Regions from separate parts of the Homo sapiens genome. Here regions 2, 3 and 4 are each linked to region 1. The links come from fine-mapping of genetic effects on gene expression. A gene starts in region 1. Each other region holds a variant in brackets. All regions are shown on one strand. Distances are between the middles of the regions.

Region 1 (7,697 bases):
CTGTCAGATAAACAAGTCATTACTAAAACTATTTTTTTTTTTTTTTATGAGACGGAGTCTTGCTCTGTCGCCTAGGCTGGAGTGCAGTGGCATGATCTTGGCTCACTGCAAGCTCCGCCTTACAGGTTCAAGCGATTCTCCTGCCTCAGCCTCCTGAGTAACTGGGACTACAGGCGCCCCCCCACCACGCCCAGTTAATTTTTTAATTTTTTTGGTATTTTTAGTAGAGACAGGGTTTCACCGTGTTACCCAGGATGGTCTCGATCTCCTGACCTCGTGATCCGCCAGCCTTGGCCTACCAAAGTGCTGGGATTACAGGCCTGAGCCACTGTGCCGGCCCTACTAAAACTATCTTTAAAATTAATATTGAAAAGCATTAGTGTATGCAAACATTTATATACTTTCCGGCCTTTTGAAGAATTAGTCTAGGAAAACATTAACCATCATTAAGCAAATAAATCCCTGCTGCTTAACACCCTACATAGAGTTGCCCCTTTGAGATGCAGCTTAACTGTAAATGTAACTGTAAAATTAATATGGTGCTCAGATTTGAACGGACTGTTGATTATCTTTGTTTTGGTATCTGAAGACTTGTGACATATCTCTGTCGATTGGGAATTACGGCAGGCTCTCCTTGTACCATAGTGTCAGTTTTCTGGAGAATGTCTGTCTAGCCCTTGGAAGTTCCCTTATGCGTCCTTTCCCTCAAGGTGAATTTTGGGAATGCTAACTTTGCCTTTATTTTAAATTGTGACATCGTAAACACAACCAACAAATTTCTTCAAAATGTCCAGCCACTATATACATTTGAAAAAAGAGATGAAAGGTTAGAGAAATAACAAAGGTATATGTTATTACTGAAATTCTTTTGGTTGTAATAGAATTAAGTATTACTGAAAAAATAAGCTTTCTTACCATGCCAGTTTGATTTTGTTTTGACAGCTGTAATGAATTGTGTTGCTTGTTGATTGGTTTACTGCAGTGGTGGTCTCTTTGAACTGTTTGTTCTATATCTAAATTAGTTCCTTGGCTTGCCCCTTGGAAATAATTTGGATGGATAGTAATAAAACTATTACATAATGGTGATTCCTCTGAAATGACTTTTAAGCATATTGAATTCTTATCGATTTCTATTTCATATAATGGCATTTCTATTTTATACATTAGTACTTTTTGTTATACTAAGACTTTGCATATTTCTTGTATTTTGGCAAAAGCAATTGGAATCCATAAAGCAACATACAGAATTTAATTGTGATAAAAGTGCTCTGGTAAAGAAAATTTGGTATAAAAAGCCACTGCTTTCATTTATCAAGGAATGGGAAGGGACACTTATTTTATAAAAGATATTGAGGACAAACTTTTTTCTCTATTTTTATATACAAATTCTTTTTTTCTTTTGAGATAGTATCTCCCTCTGTCGCCCAGGCTGGAGTGCAGTGGTGCGATCTTGGCTCACTGCAACCACTGCCTCCTGGGTTCAAGTGATTCCCCAGCCTCAGCCTCCTGAGTAGCTGGAATTACAGGTGCCCACAACCACGCCCGGCTAATTTTTTTGTATTTTTAGTAGCGACCAGCTTCACCATGTTGGTCAGGCTGGTCTTGCACTCCTGACCTCAGGTGATCTGCCTGCCTCAGCCTCCCAAAGTGTTGGGATTACAAGTGTGAGCCACCACGCCCGGCCTATATACAAATTCTTAATCTTACCAAGTTCACAAATTTGAACTTAACACAACTCTTAAGGTTAATAAAAGTATTGTTTTATAAGTTATCAATGTGAGAAACAGATTTGGGGTAATTATTCAAACTCAAATTCAGTAGGCATAAGAATTTAGTGTATCCATGGCCTTGCTCATGAGTCATATGTTTTTTTCTTTTCAAAGTCCAAGTGAAAACTTCACTGCTTTTACAATAAGCTGTGAAAATTATTGGCAGATGTAGGGACCCTGCCTCATTTATATCTATGAAACCCTAATTCAAGTTTCAAGTAATTGTATGACATTTAACAACATAAGAGTTCCGTTCCTCAGTTTTCATATTTCTTAAGAGCAGTTAATTATGTGTGATAATGGTATGTATGTTGCATGTATTATTGTTGGCATATAGCCAACGACATTTTCCTTAATCTCTTAGTAACACTTTAAGAAGACTAAACATTTACCCAACTCAATAACTGGAAGGGGTTTTTCCTCCAAGTGCTAATTCATTTAGTTGTTGTTTATTTGGGACTTGAAGCAACTAACATCTATGCGAAAACTTTCTGTATACATAATGCACTTCCCTCCTTTTTACCAATCATCTTCCTTTTTCTTTTCTTTTTTGGACTCTTGTCATTTGAAATATTGGGTGGGGGGGAACGCTTTTTTTCTTCTTTTGATTGCTCTACTTCTTCTAGTGATTTCGTCATGATTCAAGACTTTCTTTGAAAGTAAAATGGAATAAAAATGAAACACTACGAACTTTGTTGCCTATCCTCGCTGTTTTTCTTTTTGACTTAACTTTGCGTTGGGGTGCTTTAAAGTAACCCTATTTGAGAGAAGGAGGTTGAAGGGCATTCTAGCGTCCCCAACTAGAGTAAAAGGGCTATGACAGAAGGCAATCAAAGGAGGAAATAATTAGCAATCTTCAACGTTCAAGATTAATCAGTTCTGTTTAGCGGTTATTAAAGGGAAGAAAGAAACCAAATGGGAATAGTGAATTATTGGTCCTTTCATGTTTTACACTTAATGCTGGTACATAGTATTCTTTCCACATTCTACTGCACATTGCCTAGAGAAAGAACTGCAGATCATCAAATAATTATCCATTTCCAAATGGTCTAATGACAGCAGATACAAAGGCGGCTCACTTAAAACCTTCCGTTAACAGTCACACTGCATCAAATGGTGCTAGCTTTAAGTAGGCCACCCATTTAGTAGACTCTGAAACAACACCTTTCCGCCCAATTTCTGTCATTTGCTCCTTAAGTCAAGGGTAGTACCCTGCGTAACATCTTACAAAGGCCTACTTCTAACACTTCCCGAATCTTAATGTGTGAGGATGTTGATCACCATAATTTATGACCTTATCTAAGACAGTGGGGTGACTCTCCACATTGGGAGCCCCCTCATTTGTCCTCAGTGACTTCTAAAAACACCGCTGGCGTGGGCTGGATATTTGATCTTGGGGCCAAGTGCTTCCAGACTTTGTTCTCTGGCCTTAAAGGTGAAGAGCCCGGCGCTGAAGGCCACAGACATCACGGCGGATTTCACAGAGGGCCGCGTTCCGGGAGCGGGTGGCCAGGCGGTGGCGGACGCCCCACCTGTCCATCCTCCTACCCCTTCCCCCCCCCGTTGTTTGGCCGGTGGGAGCCCCTCCTTTCAGCAGGCGCCGGGCGGTGGGGTTGCGGATGGCTGCGCGCGCTGCGGGCACCGATCACCGGCGGCAGTTGGGCTCCGCGGGGCCGAAAAGCTGCGGGCGGGAAGCGCGAGGTTAAGACCCTGACGGCTGCAGCTCTCAGAGCCCCCGCGAGCGCGCTCCGTTGGTGCGCGCGCGCGCGCGGCTCCGCCCCGCCCGCTTGGCGCGCGCCCCCGCCAGGTCCGCTCTCGTCCCCCACCCCTGGCGCGGACGGGGTGGTTCCAGCTCACTCTCCTCCCCCGAGCGGCAGCGGCGGCGGCGGCGGCGGCTGCTGCGGGCGCTGAATGAGAGACGGTGACTGTTCGGGTCGACGAGTGCTACTCTAGGCGGCGGCGGCCGTGGCGGTGAAGCGTGAGGCCGGCATCGTCTTTCCGTCCTCTGAGGCGACGGCCGCGGCTGCACAGGTCGGTGGGCTCAGGCCGCGGGGCGGTGCGGGGGAGGGAGGGAGGGAGGGTGGGTACGCGGCGCCCCCCGGGCGGCGCGGGGAATGGCGGCGGCGGCGCTGCGGAGTGTGGCTCTCCCGGCCGCGGGCCCCGGGGCTGCTCGCCCTGCGCGCAGGGAGGGGGCTGCGGAGCTGGGGCTGAGGCTGAGGGAGAAGGGCGCTGGGCGGCGCGCCTCCCTCGGCCGCGGGTTCTCAGAGTCGGAGCGGCCGTGGGGTCCCCGCTCGGGGGCGCCGTCCTGAAGCCGGGGGCGCTGCGACCCCTTGAACCCGCCTCGCTCTCCCTCTTGGGTGGCGGAAGCCCCCAGCCTCCGCCCGCTCTGTTCTGGCGCCCAGCGGCGCCTCAGTCTTCCTTCAGGTGAGCCCGATCCCGGACCTCGGAGCCAGGACCAGCAGAAGCCGGGCCACACCCCCTCCCCTGGCCCTGGCGGCTGCGCCCAGAAGCCTGGCCGCAGAGTTGGCCGCCCGCGAACCCGCGGAGTCGCGGTCAGGGTGACCTGTTGCAGAGCGGCCCGCAGCCCGAGCGGCCCCCGCCAGCCCCGGCCCCGGAGGGGCTGCGTCCTGTGCTGGCCTCGGGCCGGGCGCGCGGGCCGGGTGTGGGGCAGGGGCCGCAGCCCCAGGTCGGCTTGCTCTACGGCCTGGAACCGGGCTCTAGAAAAAAAAGGAGATTCCGAACGTATCTCATCAAACACTTGCAAAGCCGGGAGATCTGTCTGCAAATATCCGGAATTCCATTGCAGTATCGGATTAGGTAGGCTCATAAACACCGTGCTTTTGAGGTGATTTGGAAGAAACGCGAGCCACGAGCGAGGAACTAGTTTCTGGAAAATAGCCGTAAACCTGTGCGGAGCGAATTATTAACCCCCCGCCCCAGCTCCCCCCTCGAAGCTCTTTTCCTGTAGCTGTGTGTTGTGTAGACGCAAGCCAGTTTCAGTGTACGTGGGCGTGTTTGGGAAGAAGCTGCGAGCTGATAGGAGGTACCTAGTACAAATGTTAATTTGTTTGAGTTGGGAGGGGTAAGGGAGGAGGAAGAAAGGGCACTGATGTTAGCTGTGGAGGAGGGGCAATTGAAATACTAAATTTCTGTTAAAAAAAAAAAACCCCAAAAGAAATATCTAATGCCTACTGTGTATTTAAGACCATAAAGTGGAATCACACAAGCAGCAGTTAATTGAGCTTTATCGTTTATGCTCCCTGGATTTTTTTTCCCCAACACTTTAGTTGCTATAGAGAGCCTTTTCTTACCAGTGTTCATGAGTTGACTTGGGTATTTTTCTGTGTCCACCATTAGATCGATTCCTGTTCAAGTTTCTTTGAAGATGACCATCAGAATTTTAGGAAACTTTTCAGCCCGTGTTTGCAGAGTATCGCTGTTAGACAGATCATAGCTTGCTCATTATAAAGCCTGTTCCACTCAAGATCATTATGCTTGTACAAGTGCTATAGAACAAGTGCTATAGAATCATACACATAAGTGTATTACTCTTACGGCTAAATATCTTAATTTAGAATTATGAGGAAACTTCCAAAACTGAGCATCCAAACAGTATTATTTTAACAAAGATAACCTCTAACTCAAGCTTTGTAGGCATGAAGTTTATCATGTAGCTTCAAAGGTCTTTTGAGGCAGATCTAAATATCAAAATGTAAGGGCATTAATGCCATTTGGGATAAACAATTTCAGTGTATTTATTTTAAGCGTAGTTCATTTTTTCTTTTTAAAATTCAGCATAATTTTTGAACGGTAAGATGTGCGTTTTTCCCATTATATTCCACTTTTTTTTTTTTCCTTTTAAGATAGGTTCTCCTTATTTGGCTCAGGCTGGTCTCAGACTCCTGAGCTCAAGCGATCCTCCCGTGTCAGGCTCCCAAGAAGCTGGGACTACAGGCATGCGCCACTGTGCGTTATTTCACTTTTCATTGAATTAAGGAATTTGACTTTTAGTAATACTTTGGGGCAGGACTCTGGAAATACTGTTTAGTTTGCCTAAATTTTTTCAGATTGCAACGTAAGTTTGAAGATAATGCTTGCATTGGCAGAACACAACGTGCTTTTCTAATATTTATTAGTAATACTAGAAAGAATACAACAAATTTTCCTGAGAGAAAACATAACTGAAAAACTGGCTTTGTGAGTCAGATACATATGTGAGTAATATATTTTTGTGTGTGTTTTTAAATACCTGGTACGAGTCTTTTTATTACGTCATTAGAGTTCAGTGTAGTGAATGATGGATATATAGGTGAAATTGTCCTGTTGCAACTTAAAACACTTAAGCTTTTTCCAGAGACTCAGTTCATTCTGCACATGTGTATTGGGTACCTACTTGGTGCCAGTTAGTTCCCTAGAGGTTGGGGACACAACAGGGGAGACACAACAGGGCTTATCATTTAAGCCCTGATGGGGCTTAAATGATAAGTGGGCAAATATGTTTGTTTAAAAGTTTAAGAAGTAGAAACTCCTCTGATAACTTTTTGGTTAAGGATATTGTTTTTTTCTTTCTGAGAATTGTGGGAATTATTGCCTAGCGAACAAAAACATTAAGACAATTGTTTTTAGAATATGCCTATGTTTATATACTTTGGGTTTCTGGTTACCAAGTATACCAAAGATAAACATTCTACCTGAAGTCAGATGATGCGTAGTTTACATGTGGTTAGACAGCCTTATTCTTTTGGTTTATGTAGTTAAATGAATGTTTGCTGAAAATATTCTCTCGGCATTTATTTATAAGGGAATCTAAATTTCTTTTTTGGTCTAAAATTTTAAAATATCACCTTTTTATTTCTGGCTGACTGTGAGTGAACCAATTCCTTGATAATCTGCTTTTTCAGAAATTTTTAAATAACTTTTAAACCATAAACCAAACTATTAATTGAAATTTATTGAATCAAATTTGTTTTCTTTTGTGAGTTAAACTTTAAACCCATTTTCTCCGAAAGTATGCTTTTTTTTTTTTTTTTGCTATGTAAAATAGGCACATAGTTTGGGTTTACTTTTAATTTTAATGATACACAGTTTGAGAATAAGATATTGAAGTGTATCCATTTTTTGAATATGAGATATTTATTGTGTAACGACTGTATTTGGAATAAAATTGTCACTTTAATATGAATACTTTTTTTTAAGTTAATTTTCAATGAAAGATAATTCAAATAGCTTGAAACTACCCCAGCCTGAGTGAAGTTCCTTGGAGAGGAAAATGAATGTATTGCATTACCCTGTAAATTGTTTCTTTAAATGTGTCTTAAATTTCCTATTGAATCCTTTTTAGTGAGAGAATAAAGATTGTGATAAATTTTAGTAACGTGGAATTAATCTGGAATCTTTTTTGGTTTAATGTCTTGAGCTTTTGATTTAGGAAAACTTTTAACTACATAATAGAAATAAAACACTGGAATTTAAAATGTGTTACATTTACCTATTCTATGGAAAGAAAAAAGTTTGAATATAAATTTACATAGTCACTTTACTAAGTAGCTAGTTAGGGATATGGGAAGGATCTATATATACATACAGTTATATGGATATAGCAGTGTTCATATGACTTAGCTTGAGGAAGCTTGGCCGTTTATTTCATTACAGAGAAACTTTTGGTACTGGCTTTTGAATAATACATTGCTTTGGAGTGTGAAAGACTTGAATCTCTCATCTTGAATTTAATTGATAGTTTTCTGTTATTTCACTTACATGACCTTTTTTTTCAGAACAGATTTTCTTTAGTTTGATTTCCTTTTGTTGTTCTTGCAGAAGTGTTTTCTGAAAACCTTATTAAATAGCATCCCCCATCATACTCTGTGCCTTTGCCTTGCTTTATTTATTTATTTTTACATCATTGGTTTATCTGACATTAAAACGTAC
Region 2 (7,697 bases), 38 kb before region 1:
TCATACTAGAGATAGCAGTAATATACATTGGCTGAAGGTCATAAACACCTATCATTTAAGCGTTTCATTATGAACTTTCCTAAAAATCATATTTAATCTAACCTTCGTGCTTTTATCCAAAAGCTCATCCCTACTCCTGTTCACCTACCCATATTTGTATTACTTGGGATTCTCAGATTCAACCTAATCACTTAAGTTTTTGTTTTTTAGGGAGGTTATTTATGATAAGACACAAGATTCACTCACAGATTTGAAGCTGAACAGTTAAGCCTTGAAAAAGTCCTCTGGCCCTTGGCCATTGGGGCTTGCTTACCATCCCCTGCCTTTGAATTTCTGCCTGTTGGCATCATCCTCTCAGACCAGCTTTGAAGACATAGCTGCCTTGGGCACACATCCTTGCAGCTCTCTGACTAGAGAAAAAAGGAATATCTTTCTTCCGCTTGAGTCTGAAAATGAGTGGTAAAAAGACACTGAATGACCTGGGCGGGACTTTGTGCCTATCTAGAGACCAGTCAATGTGCCCAGAAGAAAGAAGAACACTGATTAACTCAACTTGAGCATGTGCCATACCTCTGAAGTACTTCATGATTAGTAGCCCCCACATGGTTTTAAGGAGCATTTGCCAGAAAAAAAAAAATGCCTGTTCTGTACAGACAAAAGGTTGAATGCCCCTCTATAGGCCACCGCACCTGGCCTCAGGTGCTTTTTGAGTGGACTGAACTTCACGATCATTACCTCACATCCTCACATCACAGGTCAAATCCTGTCTCCTTTCTTGATGACTTCATTCATTATGAGAAAAGGTTCATGGAGCGCCTACCATGTGGTAGGCATTGCTAGGTTCTGGAGACATCCATTTACTCATTCAGTCAGTCAGCAATTTTTATTCAGAGCTTTCTGTGCCAAGTACTATGCTAAGTTGCTGGGGGACACAGCAGTGAGGAAGACAGATGAGATCTCTGCCCTCTCAGAACTTGTGTCATGTCGGCCAGGCGTGATGGCTCATGCCTGTAATCCCAACACTTTGGGAGGCTGAGGAGAGTAGATCACCTGAGGCTGGGAGCTTGAAACTAGCCTGGCCAACATGGCGAAACCCTATCTCTACTAAAAATACAAAAAATTAGCTGAATGTGGTTGCACATGCCTGTAATTCCAGCTACTCAGGAGGCCGAGGCTGGAGAACTGCTTGAACCTGGGAGACAGAGGTTGCAGGAAGCCAAGATCACACCACTGCACACCAGCCTGGGCAACAGAGCGAGACTCTGCATCAAAAAAAAAAAAAAAAAAAAAAAAAAAGCAAAATTTATGTGGGGACAACAGTTAATAAACAAGTAGATAAATGAAACAATTACAGATTGTGAGAAGAAATGAAGAGATGAAAAGCGTACCTTATTCAGAGAATGATGAGGGTGGGCATGGGGGAGGGTGTCTGCTTGGGTGGTGAAGGCCAGGCTCTCTGAAGAGCTGATACTGGAAAACTTAACCAACCCATGTGTCCTCCTTTTGAAGCCCTCACAGGCCTTGGCATAGAGGCTGAGCACATGAAGATCTGCTAAAGTGAATGGGAAACTAGGGAAATGAAAATAAATATCTAGCTTAGTGTAAAAGTAAGGAAATATTTTTTGAAAATTGAAACCTGTTGGGTAAAGGTCATGCTCTCTTAGAGCTTTTGAAAAAAAACACATCATTTAACAGTCATTAAGAAAAAATGTGTGACCACAGGAACTGCAGAGTTCATAGGTTTCAATACATATTTCAAAACAAGCCTCAGAAATAACAATCCAATGTGTCATTGCTATACAACTCCTTGAAAAATAAATCCACAACAAAAGGAAAAAAATAAGACTATTTTGCAGTCCAGATATCTAAGTATTAAAGAACTTATAGGAGCCTCTGAAAATCCAGTAGGCATGTTTATGTCTTTATGATGATCTTCTCCCCTGGATAAATTTGTTTTTAGAAAGAACTAAAAACTTCTATTTTGAGATTGCTCTGTACACATGCATGATATTTGACCATGTAGAGTCATGAACATGCTCTGTCTATACATTCACATACATAAAGACAGGGGGATGTGGAAAGGATATGGATTTAGTCAGATAGAATTGGGTCCCAATTCTGGTTCCAGTACTTTTTTTTTTTTTTGAAACGCAGCTTCACTCTGTCATCCAGGCTGTATTGCAATGGTGTGATCTCAGCTCACTGCAACACCCGCCTCCCAGGTTCAAGCGATTCTCCTGCCTCAGCCTCCTGAGTAGCTGGAATTGCAGGCACCCACTGCCACACCTGGCTAATTTTTGTATTTTTAGCAGAGACGGGGTTCACCATGTTGGCCAGGCTGGTCTTGAACTCCTGACCTCAGGTGATCCACCAGCCCCAGCCTCCCAAACTGCTGGGATTACAGGCATGAGCCACCGCGCCCGGCCTGGTTCCACCACTTATTAGCTGTGTGATTTTGAACAAGTTATTTGACTTTTCCAGGCCTCATTTCTCATCTGTGAAATAGAGGTAATAATAACTTCACAGGGTTTTCTGAAGTTTTCATTAAATCAGATGTGTTGAATGCTAGGTAGATGTATTGAATGTGAAACAGAGGCAAACCCTAATGAATGGTATTTATTCATTTATTTAAGATTTACTTATTTACTAGGCCTGGACAAGACATAATCTCATTTCTATTACTCTTACAGTCTATGAAAGAGAAAATTCAGAATATTTCGTTTGCTTCTGATTCTGATCACACTAGAAACATTAAATGACAACCACTACTATTTCATTAACATATCAGGAGTCAATTGGAACAAGTTCAGCTGTGAAATAATTTTGAAAAGGTTAAGTGTTTTTCTGTTCTTTCTGCTTTAGCTCAGAACATACATGGGATACATTTAATTATTCATGTGTAAAGGAAAGATCCCAAATAACATTCAGTCAAACCAGTATTTTCACAGGCCAGAGGGGCCTTGGCCATCTGTGTGAGTGTTGTTGCCTCTCCTAAGTTTTCTGCTCATTCCTGCATCTGTGATCTGGTTCAAGGTGCTTTTTTCTTTTTAATTTTTCACTTTTTATTTTTTTATTTGAGATAGGGTTTCACTCCTGTCACCCAGGCTGGAGTGCAGTGGCACGATCTTGGCTCACTGCAGCCTCCGTCTCCCACACTTAAGCGATTCTCCTGTCTCAACCTCCTGAGTAGCTGGGACTACAGGCACATGCCACTACATCTGGCTAATTTTTTTTTTTTTTTTTTTTTTTTTTTAGTAGAGACAGGGTTTTGGCATGTTGCCTAGGCTAGTCTCAAACTCCTGAGCTCAAGTGATCTGCCCACCTTAGCCTCCCAAAGTGCTGGGATTACAGGTATGAGACACCACACCTGGCCTCAAGTGCTTTTTGACAGGACTGAACTTCACATCTACTCATCTCAATTTCATTCATCCTCCTACCTAGTTATTCATCCTCCTTACCTAGTTACTCATTCCATCTGCCATCATAGCTTTGGTTTTAGGGAAAGGGGATTTCACAGTTCTTTTGTTCCATCAACAAACAATATTTACTCTTGAATGTCTCAAATTTTTCTCACCTTTTTATAAGCAGGAATTCCCCCTTAAATTGTCTCAGCCCGTCTTTAAGTCATGCTGCCTCAAAAATGGAGTACTGGTATCTTATAGTTACTTATAGTGACTTGGTCCATATTCCACCTAAAGTAGAAATCTTTAAAATATCCTACTTGAGATGATGGGGCAATCAATACTTGAAGACATAGCCAAGTCCTTATGGGTAGCTCTAATCTTAAGAAAGGTTTTCTTTTCGTTAAACAGTTCACACAGGCTATCTCTGGAGAGTAGAGATGGAGGAAGGTGAGAGGCAGGAAAGGAAAGGGAAAGGAGGAGAAAGATTTTCAAGTTTCATAATATACCCTTTTGTTATGAATGTATTTTTTCCCTTGTGGGTGAATTACTTAAATTTAATCAAAATCTGCATCCCCTTAACCATCAGTACTAGAATTACACACAGTAAATCTGACGCTTCCTCCAAATAACACTTTCAAATCTTAAACTACCTTGTCCTTTTCATGTCTATTCATCTTTAAGCTAAGGACACTATTCCTTCAAATGTTCCTCGTATGATCAAGCACATACCTTTATT[A/G]GTTACCTCTTGCAGCATTTATTTTTTTCTTCCCTTGACCCAATAGCCCCTGATTTCTGAGCGGGGCTCCATCTGGTTCTGGAGAAGCTGACTCTGCCCCTGCTCCAAGGGTGGAGTATATGACCTAGGCTATCGTTCCTTTTTCCTGGCCACAGAGATGGGTTCAAGGGGTGGACACTTGATCAACGCTAGTCCAATCAGAACAAATCTCAGGGGTGAACTAGAAATGATAGTTTTAAAGTGTGGGGTGAAGATGAGGATGCATGGAACCTTGGGAATTGTTGACGTTTATCTTGGACCATGAAGGGAAGAGCCTACTGAAAAATGCACCAATATTCAAAAAGCAGGTGGAGAGATGGAGAGAAAAATCTGAGTACTTCTTGTATGAGAAGAAAGGCCTTGTTTGAAGGCAATTCTACTTTAGAATTATGTGATTTCAACTACAAGTCAACATACTATTTTGCTTAGCCCAGTTTGAGTCTAGTGCTTTGTTACTTGCAACTGAAAATATCCTGACTGATATGTGTGAGATGGTTCTTCCCTAGAGTTGCCTGCCTTTGGACAGACTTCAGTTTGTCAGTGACCTGCTTACCAGGTTCCCAGAACACAACCTACTATTGTAGATGAGATTGACCATGGCAGGCCACAGAGGCTTTCTAATGAGCCTGGATCCCAATGTATTGCTATTATGTCTGAACTTGAAACTGTACTGGAATTTTGATCACCCCAATTCCAACAACTATCACCAGAAAACTACCTATTTTACGAATCATTTGGGAACACAAACCCTAAACACCCAGGAGCTTGCAGGAGAAAATAGAAAGGATATTTCAGAATATACTTTTGATATTTCAGAATATCCTTTTCTATAAAAAGTTCAAAGTCCCTTCTGTTTCTGCTTTAGCTTTCAGAAACAGAATTACCAACTCCTTGCTTAGTTTAATTTTGACATGTGTATTTAACAAATTGCAGGTTTTCAAAATAATTACTATACACAAGTACTGTTTAAAAAAAAAATTTTTTTTCTGAGCAAAGTAACCACCATGTTTTGCAACCATGTTGAGTGGTTGCCATCAACGATGAAGTAAGAGCACCGGAGGTCTTTCCTGGGGAAGAACACAGCTCATGCACCCCCAAGAGGCCTCTGGGTTGACATTTCCTTGGTGACTTTACCAAGATCCAGATTCTGGACCTCAGTTTGGGCAGGTCCATAAACTAGACTTTATAAGTGTATTCCCAGAGGTGCAGACTCAGTGGAACACTCACATGAGATGGACATGTAAATCAGAATGCCAATGCTTTCATTTTTCAATGGAGATGACCTTTTGCAGGAGATAGATGACCTGCATTTCATTCAGAACACCACACTTCCCTTTCCTAGGGGTAGAAAATTGGAAAGCTGGATTAGTAATAAAGACAACTGCTGGGTGAGCATGGAATTAAGAGAAAGGGAGTGGATTGTCTTGAGGACTATTTCACCCAGGTCATGATGAGACTCTGATAAAATACATCCTCACACATGGGTGATAATATTTATCTAGGGGGCTGGGCACGGTGGCCCATGCCTGTAATCCCAGCACTTTGGGAGGCCGAGGTAGATGGATCACCTGAGGTCGGGAGTTCGAGACCAGCCTGACCAAGATGGTGAAACCCTGTCTCTACTAAAAATACAAAAATTAGCTGGACATGATGGCGGGTGCCTGTAATCCTAGCTACTTGGGAGGCTGAGGCAGGAGAATTTCTCGAACCCAGGAGGTGGAGGTTGCAGTGAGCCCAAACGGCGCCACTGTACTCCAGCCTGGGTGACAGAGCAAGACTCTGTCTCAAAAAAAAAAAAAAAAATCTATCTGGGGGCCAAAGGGAATGTGGCATGGTCCACATTATCAAAGTTCTCTTTGTAGAATGACAATAGCTAATACTTATTTATGGTAGTTCTTACCATGTGACCAATCACTATTCCAGACATCTATTAACTAACTTAATCTTTGTAATAAGACTTTGAGACTTATGCTATCATTAGCCCCATTTTACAGATGCTAACACTGAGTCACAAAAGGGGAAAATGACTTGCTAAAAGTTGCATTGCTAATCAAGTGGTAAAGCTGGGATTCATATGTAGCCTGACTCCAGAGTCCATGCCTTAAATTGCTATGCTATACTGCTTCTTGAATGCTGTGTTTTTCTGTGCTACACACTCATCTCTGCTGCTACATCCTACATAACACATTAACTACTTTATATGCTATTTGACACCACCTCTATAGTTAGTTCTGAGTCCTGATAATGCTATGTCTCTGAAATATTTTCATCTGTATATATACACATACATGCATAAAATGTATGTATATATATAATTTCTCAAGAAGATATATACGTGTGTGTGTGTGTGTGTGTGTGTGTGTATAAAATCCTTTACTGTTGCCTCTATACATACCAAAAAATATAAACAAAACCATGCTAGTATGGGCTGTTGGCTAGGAAAAGAACTTTGTTATATTGAACTGGACAGTGTGGTGATAGTTGTTAAAATAGGATTCTGCCTATATTTAATCCTTCTCCAAAAAAGGAAATATTTAGTTTCAGAGAGGTATTACAGCAAGAAACATTAGAGAAGAATGAGGAACGTGCATTGGCCTTCAATCAGAATGTAATGCTCCAGTCGAAGCCAGCTGTTCCTGCATCAGGCCTAAGGCAGCACACCCTTGGCCATGCTGTCTCTGAATCTCTGCAAAAGAGCCAGGTTAAGTCTGGATTTTATTGAACTGATCCTATCCTTCCTTCACAAGGATTGTTTTAAAACCACTATAATCTTAAGAAATATTCCCTTGTTATTTTCTTTTTTAAAGTTACATTTTAAAAAAAAGATTAAAAATGTATGATTCAAAAGCCTAAATGTATGAAAGGTAATTCAGTGAAGTCTTTTCCATGCCCAAACTCCTAACACTTGGTTTCCCTCCTGGGAGGCAATTATCAGTTCCTTCCTTACTTATCCTTCCAGAGATATTCCATTATCATTTCCTTTTATTGTCACTTTTTTCCCCCAGGAGATATGTAGTTGGGCCTTTTTAGCTTATTTTGCCATACTTTCTTTTTCTTCTTCTCCTATCCCTTCTTTCAAAAGACAAGGTTAAGCTCTCCTGCAGACTTTTCTTCTAAATGCCAATCTGCCCTTGGTTGATATTGGTTTTATCATCTTCCAAATCCAGTTTCTGTTCTAGCTAGGATTAAGCTTGTATGCGACAGCTAGTGGTCCCAGTCACCTTCCAATGAATGATGGATGGGACCAGGAGGAGCAACGGTTCCCTAATACCATTAATTACAAGATTTTCATAAGCTCAAAATTCTAGAACTGACAGTTGCTTCCAACTGTTACCAGCTGTTAATTTGGCAGAGGTGTTGGGGATCTGAGTGCCGTTCTGCAAACAATCTGGGACAGCGGCTGGCTCACCATATATCTTCTTTCACAGGCTCTGTGATGGTCGATTCTGGATTTCTTGGGTCTAAAATAATATCCTAAGCCCATTCCAGAGTCCACATGTCTATCACTAGCCATGTGA
Region 3 (7,697 bases), 60 kb before region 1:
CGCACGCCTGTAGTCCCAGCTACTAGGGAGGCTGAGGCACAAGAATTGCTTGAGCCCAGGAGACGGAGGTTGCAGTGAGCCAAGATCACGCCACTGCACTCCAGCCTGGGTGACAGAGTGAGACTGGGTCTATCTCTCTCTCTCTCTCTCACACACACACAAACACACACACACACACACACACACACACACACACACACACACACACACACAGAGAATAGCTCTGCCTGGTCACATAGAGGTGGAACCCTTTGTAAAAAAAAAAAAAATGCTGTATTACTTAGAAATATCTAACTCTCACTTGTTTCAAGAAAAAAACACTGAGAAAACAAAAGTCCAGGACAACAAAAGAATATACAGAGGAAAAAAACAAATGATCCCTTTCTCCTCTGGACAGGGGCCACATTTCCTTTGTCACTATATCCCCAGTGCCTAGAGTGAAGAGGAAATTGAGATAGTTCTGTGGGGGCAAATGAATTCATATGGTGACTTTGGGACCCTGCATTATGGGGTCTGGACTGAAAGATTCCTTCAAAGTCACTCTGGACCAGGCCCACTGCTTCCAGGCACGTTTACATCCAAAGTAAGCAACAAAAGGATCTGACCTCTCTCCCTAAGGCCTAGAACACAATACAGATAACAATAAGAACAACAAAGTGGGTTTAAGATAAAATAAACACAATACACATTGCATTCTTGTCTTCTTTTCTTGTCTTTTCTGGCTGTGTGTATGTTTTTTTAACAGGAATCTGTTGGTGGGAGAATTCCTGGATGTTTCCTACAAGCAGATGGCAATGTTCTCTTAGTCTCATCGGAACCAGACAGAGAAGGGGACGGTGGAAAAAGGACTGATAGAGACAAAGCACATCTAGCCAACCAGTCACCCTCTACTTCTAAAGACTTTTGAAAACAAGAGTATTGTCAAGAATTATTTAACATTATTATGATACTATCATTATAATCAAGGAGTGGGCTGTTGAGAGATTTCATCTTCATTCATTTTTTCAACAAATGTTTGGTCAGTGCCTAGGATGTCAAGTACTGGGCTAGTTGCTTATTTTATAAAGATGAACAAAACAGAGTCCTTGCTAGCAGCTAGGTCATAATGAAGACAACCCAAACAACAATGACCGCGCTGTTAGCTAGGACAGCAGCGTGCCTAGGATGCAAGGAGAACCTTGGAGGGCAGTCAGAAAGGGTCCCAAGACCAGGTGACATTAGAGCTGTGCTGGGAAAGAGGGGTAAGATTTAGACGCAGGCGAAGAAACGAAGCAAGCACATTCAAGGTGGGAGTCAAAGTCACTGAAATATGAGAGCACCTGAGCTAGTTGGTACCACTAGAATCAGGGGTAAGGCTAAGAGAGGATGAGGAACTGAGGCTGATGAAGGTAGCAAAAGTAGACCAAGCAAGATGTTGGCTCTCATGATTAGACATTTTTTCTCAAAGCAGTGGGGAACCATCAAAGGTTTTTCACCAGAAAAAAATGTCATGTTAACATTTTTTTTAAAAATTGAGACAGAGTCTTACTCTGTTGCCTAGGCTAGAGTGCTGTGCCACAATCACAGCCCTCCTGGGCTTAGGCGATCCTCTTGCCTTAGCCTTACACATAGCTGGGACCACAGGCACATACCACCACCATGCCTGGGTAATTTTTTAAAAAAATATTATTTGTAGAGACAGGGTCTCACTATGTTGCCCAGGCTGACCTCAAACTCCTGGGCTCAAGTGATCCTCCTGCCTCAACCTCCCAAAGTGCTGGGATTGTAGGTGTAAGCCATTGCACCTGACTCATTTTAGCATTTTTAAAAGATTACTTGGGAATAAATGTAGGACACAGACTTGTTGGGCAGGAGTTAGGAAACAAGACTGAAGAAAAGGAGACCAGTTAAGAAGGTATGGCAAGAAACTAGGAGAGAAATTATACAGGTCCTAAACCAAAGAGTGCTAATAAGGATGGAGGGGAGGAGGCAGATTGGCTAACTGAATGTGAAGAATGAGTGGAGAAGGCACAGAAGAAGACACTTTAGGTACCTCTCAGTCTTCTGTCCTGAATGACCAGATAGATGTGCATGTCGTTAACCAACATTCAATGTCTGGAACAGAAACATTTTAGGGAGGAAGATGATATGGGCAATATGGGATATGTTTAGTTTGAGATGTCCAGCTGGGAGTTGAAAAGCCGTGTGTGGAGCAGGAAGAAGTTCTAGGCTGGAGATAGACATCAGCACTGGGATGATCACTGAAGCTATAGGCTTAAGTTCTACTAGATCAATGGCTTTGAGACTATTTTTTCTATAACCCACAGCAGAAATACATTTTATGTCACAATCCTGTGTACACATACACACACCTATAAAAATGTTCATTCAACAGTATTTACCATGACCAAGTGTGACGGACTCTAAGAGCTTTCTATTGAATTTCAGTTTTTTTAAATGCTGGTCAGATGCACCGATTTGATTTCACAATCTACTAATCACTAATGGGTTGCAGCCTGTAGTTTAAAATGCACTACCCTAGATTATAAGCTTCTTGTAGCAGGGACCACATCTTATACAGTTTAGATTCCCCGTGGCAACTATTATAATGCCTTGCACATAATGAATTTTTGTGGAAGGAAATCAGGGGAAAAAGGAAGGAATGAAGTGAGGGAGGGAGAGAGAGACGAATTTTTCCAGTACTCAACCTTAAAATGTTCTCCAAAACTACAATGAAATCTTGTCTCCTCCAATTCTACTGAACTTTCATATACACAGTTTCTATTTTTTTCCTCATATTTCCAAGGTAAATCAAACATGG[G/A]TCACAATGCCTCAGGGGAGATTTGGTGTTTTGCTTTTTCTCACCACCAACTCCCTACACCACATCTAGGGCTCCAACCATAGTCTTTTAGTTGGACTAGACTGGCCAAGCAAGACACTTATGTTACATGGCTGCAGCCCTCCTATGCAAAGGTTGTCACGCTGTGTACCACATGACCCCACAACAGCTGCCTGGACCGGAGGAAGATGGCAGCAGCAGCCAACACACACACAGAGAAGAGGAAGTAGAAGCCCTAAGAAAATAGAAGCTATGAGCAAGCTGAAGATGAGGAAGAGAGGACAGGATGGAGAAATTAGTTGGTAGCGGCAGAAGCAAAGAGTAGTTTGGAAACTGAAAGAGCGAGCACTAGAAATAGGTATAGTTGCCAACTTCTGTTCATAGGGACAAGATACCCAAGTAAGCTGTGATGAATCCTGCGTTATCTTCCATTACCCTGATGACATTGCAAGCTCTGTGAGGACCAGCTTTTCATAGATTCTTCTTTCTCCACAAGGACCGCATATCATACATCAAATTTCTCCCTTGCTTCCTTTCTCTTGTACTCAAAAAAATTAACTTACAGAAAAGTTGCAAGAATATTGCAAAGAACTCATACCCTTTACCCAGATTCAGCAATTTTTAACATTTTGCCACATTTCTTTCTCTCTCTTTCTCATTTTTGTCTGAAGCATTTGAGACTAGGATGCATATATCACTTTTTTTCTTAATATTTCAGTATGTATTTCCTTAGATATTTTCTTACACAGTCGTGGTACACAGCTCCAATTCAGGCAATTTTACATTGATATAATAGTTCAATGTTAAACCCCACATTTCTACACCATTGTTCATAGCAGCACTATTCACAACAGCGAAAAGGTAGAAACAACCCAAATGTTCATCAACAGATGACTGAATAAACAAAATGTGGCCAGGCGCAGTGGTTCACGCCTGTAATCCCAGCACTTTGGGAGGCCGAGGCAGGCAGATCACCTGAGGTCAGGAGTTCAAAACCAGCCTGGCCAACATGGTGAAACCCCATCTCTACTAAAAATACAAAAATTAGCCGGGTGTGATGGCGAGCACCTGTAATCCTAGCTGATTGAGAGGCTGAGGCAGGAGAATCACTTGAACCTGGGAGGTGGAGTTTGCAGTGAGCCATGATCGTGCCACTGCACTCCAGCCTGGATGACAGAGTGAGATTTTGTCTCAAAACAAAACAAAACAAAAACAAAAACAAAAACAAATGTGGTACATACATACAATGGAAAATGATTCAGCCTTAAAAAGGAATGAAATTCTGGCACAAGCTATAACATAAATAGACCTTGAAAACATTACGCTAAGTGAAATAAACTGGATACAAAAGGACAAATACTGTATGATTTCACCTACATGAGATACCTAGAATAGGCAAAGTCCTAGAGACAGAAAGTAGAATGGTGGTGACCAGGAGCTAGGAGTAGGAGGAAATGGGGAGTTATTATTTGACAGGTATAGAGTTTAGGTATGGAAAGATAAAAACATTCTGGAGATGGATAGTGATGATGGTTGCACAATAGTGTGAATGGACTTAATGCTACTGAGCTGTACATCTACAAATAGTTAAAATGGTAAGTTTTATGTTTTGTGTACTTTACTGTACTTTTTTTAAGTTGATGTTCTAATTCTGTGAATTATCCCAATAATGTACTTGTAGCATGTTTTTTTTTTCACTCCATTCCACGATCCAGTCCAGGATCACATGTTTTACATATTGCATTTAATGATTATGTCTCCTCAGCAGGGTGATCAAGTCATCAATTCAGAATAACCCTGTTTTCCCAGACCTTCTCCATTTTAGCACTGAAAGTCCTGCATCCTGGGAAACTACTCAGTCCTAGGTGAATGGGTGAAGAGTTGGTTATGCTACTCTTCAGTCTCCTTTAATCTGGAACCGTTGGCTCAGCCTTTCAATGTTATGTCTTTTATAACATTGCCATTTTTAAAGAAATCAAGTCAGATACTTTATTGAACATCCCTCAACTTGATATTACCTGATATTCTCCCAGGTTATGCATTTCTGGTTGGAATACTACATTAGTGATTTTGTGTCCTTTTTGAAGTATCACAGCTGGAGGCACAGATGTCCATCTGTCCTGCATTGGTAACGTTAATTTTGATCATGATCAAGGTGTGGTCTAGTTTCATAATCATGTGCTTACTATTTCCTTCCACATATATGCTTATAATAAACTTCTGTTAACAGTGTTCCTTGCTACCTGAAACAGCCTAAGCAGAAGCTCAAAATATATTATAGGAAACATCTGATAGCATCCTTGCACTTGACAAAAGAAAGCATTTCAAAATTCGTTTTCCATTGTCATTGCAGAGTACCATAAATCACTGCATTCCTCATCTCTTCTGTCCTTGGCCACTTTAGGTTTTGAGGTGACAGAATTTTCAAAATGTATATATTTCTATATAATTCTTTCTTTTATTTAAAAAATCACATTATTGGTGAAAAAAAGCATGGCTTTCTGTTTAAATTACCTGTCTTGACACTTATTCTCAAAGTGAAGACTATTGTCTGGGGAAAACACACTATGTGTAGCAAGAACCTTTACACTTTTTAACTGACAGCCCCAACTGCCATCAGCATTTGTTGTATATTTAGTTGTCGTATAGATCAGTTCAAAGGAACACATTTTCTTTGTTAATTACTCAGTCAGGTAACCAGTTGATATGGCTTGGCTGTGTCCCCATTCAAATCTCAACTCGATTGTATCTCCCAGAATCCCCACGTGTTGTGGGAGGGACCCAGGGGGAGGTAATTGAATCATGGGGGCTGGTCTTTCCCGTGCTATTCTCTTGATAGTGAATAAGTCTCACGAGATCTGATGGGTTTATCAGGGGCTTCCGCTTTTGCATCTTGCTCATTTCTCTCTTGCTGCCGCGATGGAAGAAGTGCCTTTCACCTTCCACTGCGATTCTGAGGCCTCCCCAGCCATGTGGAACTGTAAGTCCAATTAAACCTCTTTTTGTTCCCAGTTTTTGGGTATGTCTTTACCAGCAGCGTGAAAACGAACTACTAATACACCAGTGAACTCTCCAAGTTCACTAATAGTCTTTGAAGGTGGGACTTTGGAGGTAGGAGATAAGCAAGGGTCTCTGGACTATTTGAAAGATGCAGAAGCCGTCAGACACTGGGCACGCTGTGCCCCAGGACCTAACCATAGCCTTTGGCACCTACTAACATGCCACCTAATCTATTTATTTATTATGTTTGCTATTAGTTTTCTGCCTCTCTCTGCTAGAATGAAGAAAGCTCCATGAAACTAGGGATCTTTGTTTTTAAGATCAGACAGTATGCATGCCCTATAGCATACACTCAACTAAGATATGTTGAATGAATGAATAAATGAACTTGTTATGAATGTAATTAATGCCACTGACTTGTATGCTTAAAAATTATTAAGATAGGAAATGCTATGATATGTGTATTTTACCACACACAAAATAAGTTTATAAAAGCAACAGTTATCTAACGTGGGCTAGTCCTGGATTGTTGCTGTATTTGAAATAACCTCAGTAGATCTACTCTACCAAGGAATTGGCCCAGACCAATTTCTCATCCAAAGAACTGATGGAGGATCAGACAATTTCAAAGCCCCTTGATTCAAGTGTTGTTGAAGTTTTTAGTTTCTGGTGGGGAGATGAAGGGAAGTAGCCCCTTTGGTTTTAACCTTTCCTGCCATGAGTTTCCCCATAGGTACTCTTACTCTTACTTCCACAGAGATTTAAAAAGTGGAGTTCATGCAGTTGAGCTCAATTTTTTTTTTCTTTTAAAAAGGAGATTTAAAAAGTGGAGTCCTCAGTCAGGTGCAGTGGCTCATGCCTGTAATCCCAGGAATCCCAGCACTTCGGGAGGCCAAGGTGGCAGATAACTTAAAGTCAGAAGTTCAAGACCAGCCTGGCCAAAATGGCAAAACCCCATCTCTACTAAAAACAGAAAAATTAGCCGGGCATGGTGGTGCAGGCCTGTAATTCCAGCTACTCAGAAGGCTGATGTGAGAGAAGTGCTTGAACCCAGGAGGCGCAGGAGTGCAGTGCCACTGCACTCCAGCCTGGGCAACAGAGTGAGACTCCATCTCAAAAATAAAAAAAAATAAAAAAATAAAAGAAGAAGAAAGAAAGAGAGAACGAGAAAGGAGAAGGGAGGGAGGCAGGAAGGAAGGAAGGAAGGAGAGAGAGAGAGAGAAACTGCCCTTTGGGTAGCATGGCATATGCCGCTTCTCCTGTTCGCAGTCAGATCTTCCTCCCTTTATGTAAAGAGTCTATTCTTACCACTGCTGACATCTAAAGAGCACAGAAGCAAGAATTACAGCTTAGAGAAGTTCTGCAAGATAGAAGTAACAAGGGAAGACAGAAGATTGTCTACTCTGGGGAGTTTTCTGCTTTAGTGTTCACAAAACATTTCATAATCTGCAGATAAATGTGCAGGCTCTGCAAAATAGAACATGCAAATAGTTCTTGGTAAAATCTATGGATCAAAGCTATTTCTCTTTGCCCTTCAAATGATCTAGTTTGCTTTTTAAATATTTGAACATTTTCCTACAAGTTGTGACAATGACACAAGTTTAAACACACCATGCCTTTTATAAATAGATCCTAACCTGAAAAAGCTTCCACCCTGACTGACTCTTGTCTGAGGTTTGAGAGGAAAAGAGAGATTTAAAGGGAAGCTAATTAATACAAATCTTCTAAAACATACATGAGGCTAGGAATATATTAAGTGCTTAATTAAAAAACAATGTAATCCCAGCACTTTGGGAGGCCGAGGCGGGCGGATCACGAGGTCAGGAGATCGAGACCATCCTGGCGAACACGGTGAAACCCCGTCTCTACTAAAAATACA
Region 4 (7,697 bases), 69 kb before region 1:
TAGCAACCTGTCACTCCTCAGCAACATCCAGTTCTGTTGAAAGACACTTCTTCAAATTCATCGTGAGCTGAAGATGAAATTACTTAAGCAAAAATACCATATATTATAAAAATAGTTCTTTACAAAATAGTCACCAGTTAAAAAAATCAAAGCATCTTATAGGATTGACTGCCAAGCACCACTGGAGGCAAGCGCTATTAGAACTGGTTTGACCCGACTCATTGCCTCCTGGTCTATGCCAGGCCAGTTGCAGCTGTTAGGCATAAGAGTGATTCTTTCTGGTGGCACACAGCTTGCCCTCTTCAAATAAACCCTCTGGGCATACCTCCCCAGCCCCCTGGAGTGCTTCTGGGGCCACATTCTGGAACTTCCAGGCAGCCCCAATGGCCAATGGTCAGTGCAATCCCCTTCACCAACCTCCAGAAAGGTAACTTTGGGTTCAGAAGTCTATGGCCTGCTGGTGCTCCCAAATCTCTCATAGTGCTTGCGTTCTGGCCTGTATGATTATGGCTTCCTCACCCTACTGGCAGAGGGCACAGAGGAGGCCTTGGTACAAAGGCCAAGCTGGGCACAGGGCACTTAGTGACTATGTATCACTCATTGTTGAGTCATGTTCTTTCACTTTACATAGCCTCTGAGTTGGCCACCACCTCGGATCCTCTACCTTCAACCCACTGCTGTGACTCAGTCAAGGAAAAAGCCCTACCAAGGAATCCCCGGAAGAATCCACTATGGCAATTCACAAATGCTCCTCGTATACCCTAAGTGGTTCACGGTAGGGCAATGGAAGCATGCAGTGCAGGGACAAGGAACCAAGGCTGTGACCAATCCCATTTAAGTATCGTATCTTTAACTAATTTCTGATGTTTGGAGGTCCCACTGGCCTCAAGAATGTTGCAGTTCTTGAGTCCTGTGTGCCAGGAACCACTGATAGATGTGCAGTTGTAGCTTTAACCAACAGCAGCCACCATCCAGGAGCCACCATCCAGGATGTTTCTTTTTTTGACTGAGGCAAATAAAGCCTTGGCTCTGTGGGGTTGCATAAGGATCACCTAGGATGCTTTTTCAAAATGCAGACTCCTGGGAGTCACCCTTGCCTCAATCTTCTAGGTTCAATAGGTCCAGGGTAGGACCTGAGAACAACAGGTTCCACAAGTGAATCTGATGATGGTGGATTTGGGGAAAAAGCCCTAGATAGTAACCTTTGTCTTCTTGTCTTTTCACTGTACACAATCCCCCTTCCAACTTGTTTTAATTACCTGGAGCTTTAATTATCACCTATATGCCAATGACTTCCAAGTCTCTATACCTATAGTCCTAACCTCTCTCTTGAATGCTAGGTTTAAATTTCCATCAGCCAGCAGATAAATCTCCCTTAATATACCATGGATAATTTCAAAAACACTTTCAAAACATAATTGTGAGAACTTATTTCCTCCTAAGACACTTGAAATTAATTGCCCCTCTTTGAGGTCTACGTAGGTAGTAAAAGGCCAGGGTTGACCAAAACGTGAAATCCACTCAGGGTAAAGAAAGTTTTATTTAAATTTCTTGTAAAGTTAAAAAAAAAAGAAAAGAAAAAGCAATGTTGCTAATGGCTGAATAACCCATAATACTCAGACCAGAAAGCAGTTTGTTCCACAGTCTGTAGGTTTTAAACTAGTGTCAGCTCTTTGCTGCAGATGTGAAGAGAAATGCAAACATTTCACCCACTTAATGATTTTTTTGCCTTGTTTCCCTAAGACAACTAATAGCTCTGTAAAGGCAGTATTTGATAACTGCGAGTACATATTGTCTGGTGATTTGATTCTTTATTGCTTCTCAAATCAGGATGGTAAAGATTCCAACTTGAGAATCTGAGTTATTTTATTTACCTGAAGATGCAGATCTGTAGTAATCAGGCTCCTTTTGTTGCAGGGAGCAGAAGCCCACTCAGTTTATCTCAAGTGTTGGATCACCTGAGGTCAGGAGTTCAAGACCAGCCTGGCCGACATGGTGAAACCCCGTCTCTACTAAAAATACAAAAATTAGCCAGGTGTGGTGATGGCACCTGTAATCCCAGCTACTCGGAGGCTGAGGCAGGAGAATCTCATGAGTCTGGGAGGTGGAGGTTGCAGTGAGCTGAGATCGTGCCACTGCACCCCAGCCTGGGAGACAGAGCAAAACTCTGTCTCAAAAAAAAAAAAAAAAAAGATAAATAAAATGGATGGGTTTTCAAATCAAAGTAAGTTTCAGTCACTATTATTGCTAGTTTATTTATATTTAATAAATATGTAATCCCATGACACTGTGCAACATAATTAGCAAGTATTTATGCTGTTGAATCCATGACCCAGTTTCCTGAAGACATCTGTTTTCTAAAAGGATTTTTTTCAAACTTAGATTAAAAAGGCACTACTTAAGCAGGGTTGCCAGAGAGAATACAGGACACTCACTTAAATTTGAATTTCAGATAAATAGTAAATAATTTTTCACCATAAGTATATCTCAGACATGCAAGGGACATACTTAACTAAGAAATTATTTGTTGTTTATCTGAAATTCAAACTTAATTGGGCATCTTGTATTTTTCTTTCTTTCTTTTTTCTAAACCTGATAACCCATCCTCCACCCCATTTATTTATCTTTCTTTCTTTTCATAAAAAAGACTAAGATTTTAGTTCTCCCTGGTGTAATGGCCTCACTTCTCTTCCAAATTGTTTTTAGATATTTTTTCTCCTTTGACAATATATAACAGGCGTGTCACCTTTGTTGATTTCTAATGTGTAATTTTTAAATGTGCATAAGGACTGGGTGCAGTGGCTCATGCCTGTTATCCCAGCACTTTTGGAGGCTGAGGCGGGAGGATCACCTGAGGTCAGGAGCTCAAGACCAGACTAGCCAATGTGGTGAAACCCCATCTCTACTAAAAAAGTACAAAAAAAAATTAGCCAGGCATGGTGGCACACACCTATAATCCCAGCTACTTGGGAGGCTGAGGCAGGAGAATTGCTTGAACCTGGGAGCTGGAGGTTACAGTGACCCAAGATGGTGCCACAGCACTCCAGCCTGGGCGACAGAGTGAGACTCTGTCTCAAAAATATATAAATAAATAAAAGGTGTATAAGATAAACTGCAGGCGAAATAAGCTTAAGCAACCTCTGAACTGATGACTAATAGTTAAAACAATTGCAAACAGGTGAAACCAGTCTCATTGTGTGAATAATGCAAATTCAAGGGGCAATCTGGGTGGAGATCTGTGACAGTAAAGCACAATTTCTTGTTAACAGAAAGGAGTTTGCTTAATGTTATCTCTTGTGATCTAAAGGCCTTGGATATTCAACATGTGTCTATTTTTCAACTGAACTGGACTTATTTATTTTCTTTCTTTCTTTCTTTTTAAATACTCCTATGACTTCATTTCTTTCACCCCATAAGCTCTTGAGACCATCCACAAAGGTCAGCAGAGAGTAATGTCTGAGCTCTCTGGGATATCCCATACATCAAAAGGCCATATCTTTACTCGGCTAAGGAGTGCAGAGCTGAGACGTGTCAGAGTACCACCTCCTCTCAGCCAGCAAGGCAAACTGCCACCATGGAGTCATGCATACTACTGCATTCGCCATAGGATTGATTTATTTCATTATTGTTTATGGATCTCTGTAGGCAAATGTATCCAATCATGAACACAGGGAAAAAAAGACACATTATTCCTTTTGACAGTAGGATGCAACAATGTCAATAATTGTTAGGTAATTATTGTCAACATATTAGACAATGCCAGCCGGTTTAATGTGCAATCATATGCTTTACCTCTTGAAATGACAACTGTGCAGTAAGTTGTTACCTGTGTTTAACAAAATACTACCAAGAATAATCTGAAACTAATACATTTACTTAAACATGGATACTTAGAGATGTTAAAAAAAATAGTAGAGCAAGTAAGGTTTTCCTGAGCTTCAAAGAACAAACTTGAGATCCAGTGAAACATCAGTTCTCAAGATTTCATATACAGTACACAAAAATGCCCCCAGAAATTTTTCTAAATACAGACTACTCCAGTGTCCCATTTCCAGAGATTCTGTTTCAGCAAGCTGTATGGCATTGTGGTTGGGAGCATGGAACTAGACTAATCTGCCCCTTTGCTACCTGTGGAACTCTCTCATGTCTATTTCCTCCTCTGTAAATTGGTGATGATAAGCCTCTTGCATGGAGTTGTTCTGAGGATTAAGAGTTGCCATTTGTAAAGCACTTAATAGATAACCCATATATGTTAGCATTTTTTTTTTTTTTTTTTGAGACGGAGTCTCGCTCTGTTGCCCAGCCTGGAGTGCAGTGGCACGATCTCGGCTCACTGCAACCTCTGCCTCCTGGGTTCACGCCATTCTCCTGCCTCAGCCTCCCAAGTAGCTGGGACTACAGGCGTCCACCACCATGCCCGGCTAATTTTTTTGTATTTTTAGTAGAGACGGGGTTTCACCATTTTAGCCAGGATGGTCTGGATCTCCTGACCTC[A/G]TGATCCGCCCGCCTTGGCCTCCCAAAGTGCTGGGATTATAGGCATGAGCCACTGCGCCCGGCCTATTTTTTTTTTTTTTTTTTCTTAAGCAACACTCCAGGTGGCTGAGATGCTGGCAATCCTCAGTCCATAATTTAATAAACACTGCAGTGTGGCCTCGGGCTGGCTGTTGACTCAGTTTGGGCTGGGCATAAATCAGTTAATCTCTCTGTGCATCAGTTCACTGCCAGTAAAGTAAGTCTGAGAATTCTTAACTAACTCAAAGATATAGTCCTTGAGAAAGGAAGAAGCCACACTTCCCTCAATAGCCTGGCAGTGTACACTCCTTGCTCTAAGAAATACATGGTAAACAGGGACTGTGCCAAGACTACACACCAATAAAACATTTTGGACCTTTAGCCCTGCTCTCATGGAGAAATATGAGTGGTCTCAGGAAGTTTGCAGCCTTGGTTTTCATGGTAAGTCCGGCGCACGTGAAACTATTGGCATGCCACACAACACCATGGATGTGTCCAAATATGTGGGACACCTCAAAGGCCACATGTTTGGAGTTTCCTTCTATCTCCTCCTTCCTAACCTCTAAATGCCTGTGGGCTCCGGGGTTCTGGCCTCTTCTCAATTTACATTCTCATCCCTAAGCTTAAGTGAATTCCCAGGTTGTATCTCTAGCCTGATGGCTCCTTGAGCTTCAAACTCTTACATATCCCACTGTCTACTCAACAGCTACACTTGGATGTCTCAAAGGTTCTCAAACTTCACATGTCCAAAAAGAAATTCTTGTTTCCAGATTCAATAACCCCATACAAATCTGCATTCACTTCCTTCCCCAAGCTTTCCCTATGAGGACGTGGTAACATCATCTATCCAGGCACTTAGACTTAACATTAAGAAGTTGCTCTTTGTTTTGTTTTTGAGACAGTGTCTCACTCTGTTGCCCAGGCTGGAGTGTAGTGGCACAATCTCGGCTCACTGCAACCTCTGCCTCCTGGGTTCAAGCAATTCTCCTGCCTCAGCCTCCCAAGTAGCTGGATTACTGTCATGTGCCACTTTGCCCGGCTAATTTTTGTATTTTTAGTAGAGATGGGGTTTTGCCATGATGGCCAGGCTGGTCTCAAATTCCTGGCCTCAAGTGATCCACCTGCCTTGGCCTCCCAAAGTTCTGGGATTACAGGCATGAGCCACCGCACCCAGCCTAAGGAGTTGCACTTGATTCTTCTCTCCCTCAAAGCCCTGCAGGTTCTCACCTCTGCCTCCCATCCATCTTCATCTCCTACTACACTCTGCCCATGTTAGCCTTCTTATTGGTCTCCTAGAGCACCCCTCATCTTTCTAGAACATTCCTGCCTCAGGGACTTCACTTCCTGTTCCCTTTCCCTTTCTTCTCTTGGGTTAGCTTATGGTTGATTTCTTTTCTTTTCGTTCTTTTTCTTTTCTTTTCTTTTCTTTTCTTTCTTTCTTTCTTTTTTTTTTTTTTTTTTTTTTTTTTTTGAGACAGATTCTCACTCAGCCACCCAGGCTGGAGTGCAAGGGCACGATCTCAGCTCACTGCAACCTCCGCCTCCCTGGTTCAAGCCATTCTCCTGCCTCAGACTCCCGAGTAGCTGGGATTACAGGTGCCTGCCACCATGCCCAGTTAATTTTTGTATTTTTAGGAGAGATGGGGTTTCACCATGTCGGCCAGGCTGGTCTCGAACTCCTGACTTCACGTTATCCGCCTGCCTTGGCCTCCCAAAGTGTGGGGATTACAGGTGTGAGCCGCCGCGCTCGGCCAGCTTATGGTTGATTTCTTGTCATAATTTAAGTCTCTCCTCAAATACAAGTGTCTCCTCCTCAAAGAGGCCTTTCCCTATCACCATATGGAAAAAGCTCTTATTCCTATGGTCACGCACTAGCCCTTACCCTGCCTTTTAATTTTTTCTCACAACATTTGTCTCAGTCCGTTATACTACTTATTTACTTACTACCTGATTATCTGTCTGCCATACTAGAATAAAATCACCAAGAGGGCAAAGACTGTCTTACTTACCATGGCATCCTGAGTTCCAGAATGGTCACTAGCTGTATTAGGCTGTTTTTGTGTTGCTATAAAGAAATACATGAGGCTAGGTAATTTAGAAAAAAAGAGGTTTAATTGGCTTCTGGTTCTGCAGCCTTTACAGGAAGTATGGTTCTGGCATCGGCTTGGCTTCCAGGGAGCCCTCAGGAAGCTCACAATCATGGCAGAAGGTGAAGAGGGAGCAGGTGTCTCACATGGTGGGACCAGGTGCAATAGATAGAGTGGGGCAGTTGCCATACACTTTTAAATGACCAGATCTCATAAGAACTCACTCACTGTCATGAAGACAGCACCAATCCATAAGGGATCTGCCCACATGACCCAAACACCTCCCACCAGGTCCCGCCTCCAGCACTGGGGATTACAATCCAACATGAGAGTTAGGCAGGGACAAATATCCAAACTATAGCACCAATAGTGGGTTCTTAGTAAATATTTGTTGCAAGAATGAAAGAACAAATGAGGAACGGATATCAGCTATTAATAACAAGGGGGTTTGGGGAATCAGAAGAATAATGAGTATTAGTACACTAAAAACAAAACAACAACAAAAACCAAAAACAAAACAAAGATTCTATCTGGGGCTTTGGAAGGGCTGGAAATATTTGAGTAGGTGAAAAAAAAAGAAGAAAGGGCCTAACATAAGCTAGGTGGGGAAACCACAAGATTCGTGTGGCAATAAAAATAAACTGATCTAATAGAGGCAGAGAGAAAATGACAGAGGCAAAAAGGAACTGAGATTGAATAGGTTAAAAAGGGTCAGAGCAGAGCAAATTTTGAATGTGTCACATAGAGGAGTTATTTGAAGGGGACGTGACATTTTCCAGTGGGGTGTCAAGGTGTCAAGGATGAGTGTGGTGTCATGTCGTGACTGAAGTTGGGAATAAAGGAGTATTCTGCTGCCGGCACAATACTCAGGCAAAGTACCTTGGGAACAGATAAAGGGTGCTACAATTAGATTTCCCCACAGCCTAAGCAGAAATCCCAAGGAGAAGCCCCTTTGCTCTTGGAATATGTCTCAGAAACTTAGAGGTCACAGCTGAATCTGAGAATGGACCCAGCCAGGAGGACCTCACATACTCACTGGTTAGAAATAATTGTTTGTTGCTATAGAATCCAGTAAGTATTAGTTCTTGTGTGAAGGCA

Which allele goes with the higher level. Positions count from the first base shown, and alleles are read on the strand shown. Sizes are in standard deviations (SD) of each study's normalised expression. Not every link is listed here.
For the expression in fibroblasts of the gene that starts at base 3,625 in region 1, allele A in region 3 goes with a higher level than allele G (small effect, 0.28 SD a copy in GTEx).
For the expression in pancreas of the gene that starts at base 3,625 in region 1, A is the low allele of the variant in region 4 and G is the other (small effect, 0.34 SD a copy in GTEx).

The links. PIP is the estimated chance that this variant, and not a neighbour inherited with it, causes the effect.
Region 2: its variant is the best candidate, but not a certain one, in a credible set for the expression of RALGPS2 in esophagus muscle (GTEx, PIP 0.59).
Region 3: its variant is the best candidate, but not a certain one, in a credible set for the expression of RALGPS2 in fibroblasts (GTEx, PIP 0.83).
Region 4: its variant is the best candidate, but not a certain one, in a credible set for the expression of RALGPS2 in pancreas (GTEx, PIP 0.84).

The regions. Positions count from the first base shown.
Region 1 is chr1:178,721,620-178,729,316 of GRCh38, forward strand. RALGPS2 (Ral GEF with PH domain and SH3 binding motif 2) reads left to right here and starts at 3,625. Exons shown (of 20, transcript NM_152663.5): 1 at 3,625-3,800. It overlaps RALGPS2-AS1 (RALGPS2 antisense RNA 1), which reads right to left and starts at 4,665. Exons shown (of 1, transcript NR_187252.1): 1 at 1,390-4,665. RefSeq lists silencers at 3,399-3,553, 3,455-3,624, 3,885-4,004, 4,205-4,434 and an enhancer at 3,975-4,564.
Region 2 is chr1:178,683,177-178,690,873 of GRCh38, forward strand. No RefSeq gene overlaps it. Among named protein-coding and RNA genes, the nearest start is that of MIR4424, 9.3 kb to the left of the region's middle. RefSeq lists an enhancer at 795-1,994. The variant A/G (reference allele first, on the strand shown) is at 4,141.
Region 3 is chr1:178,661,438-178,669,134 of GRCh38, forward strand. No RefSeq gene overlaps it. Among named protein-coding and RNA genes, the nearest start is that of MIR4424, 12 kb to the right of the region's middle. RefSeq lists an enhancer at 2,933-3,142. The variant G/A (reference allele first, on the strand shown) is at 2,801.
Region 4 is chr1:178,652,711-178,660,407 of GRCh38, forward strand. No RefSeq gene overlaps it. Among named protein-coding and RNA genes, the nearest start is that of MIR4424, 21 kb to the right of the region's middle. RefSeq lists an enhancer at 1-1,049. The variant A/G (reference allele first, on the strand shown) is at 4,495.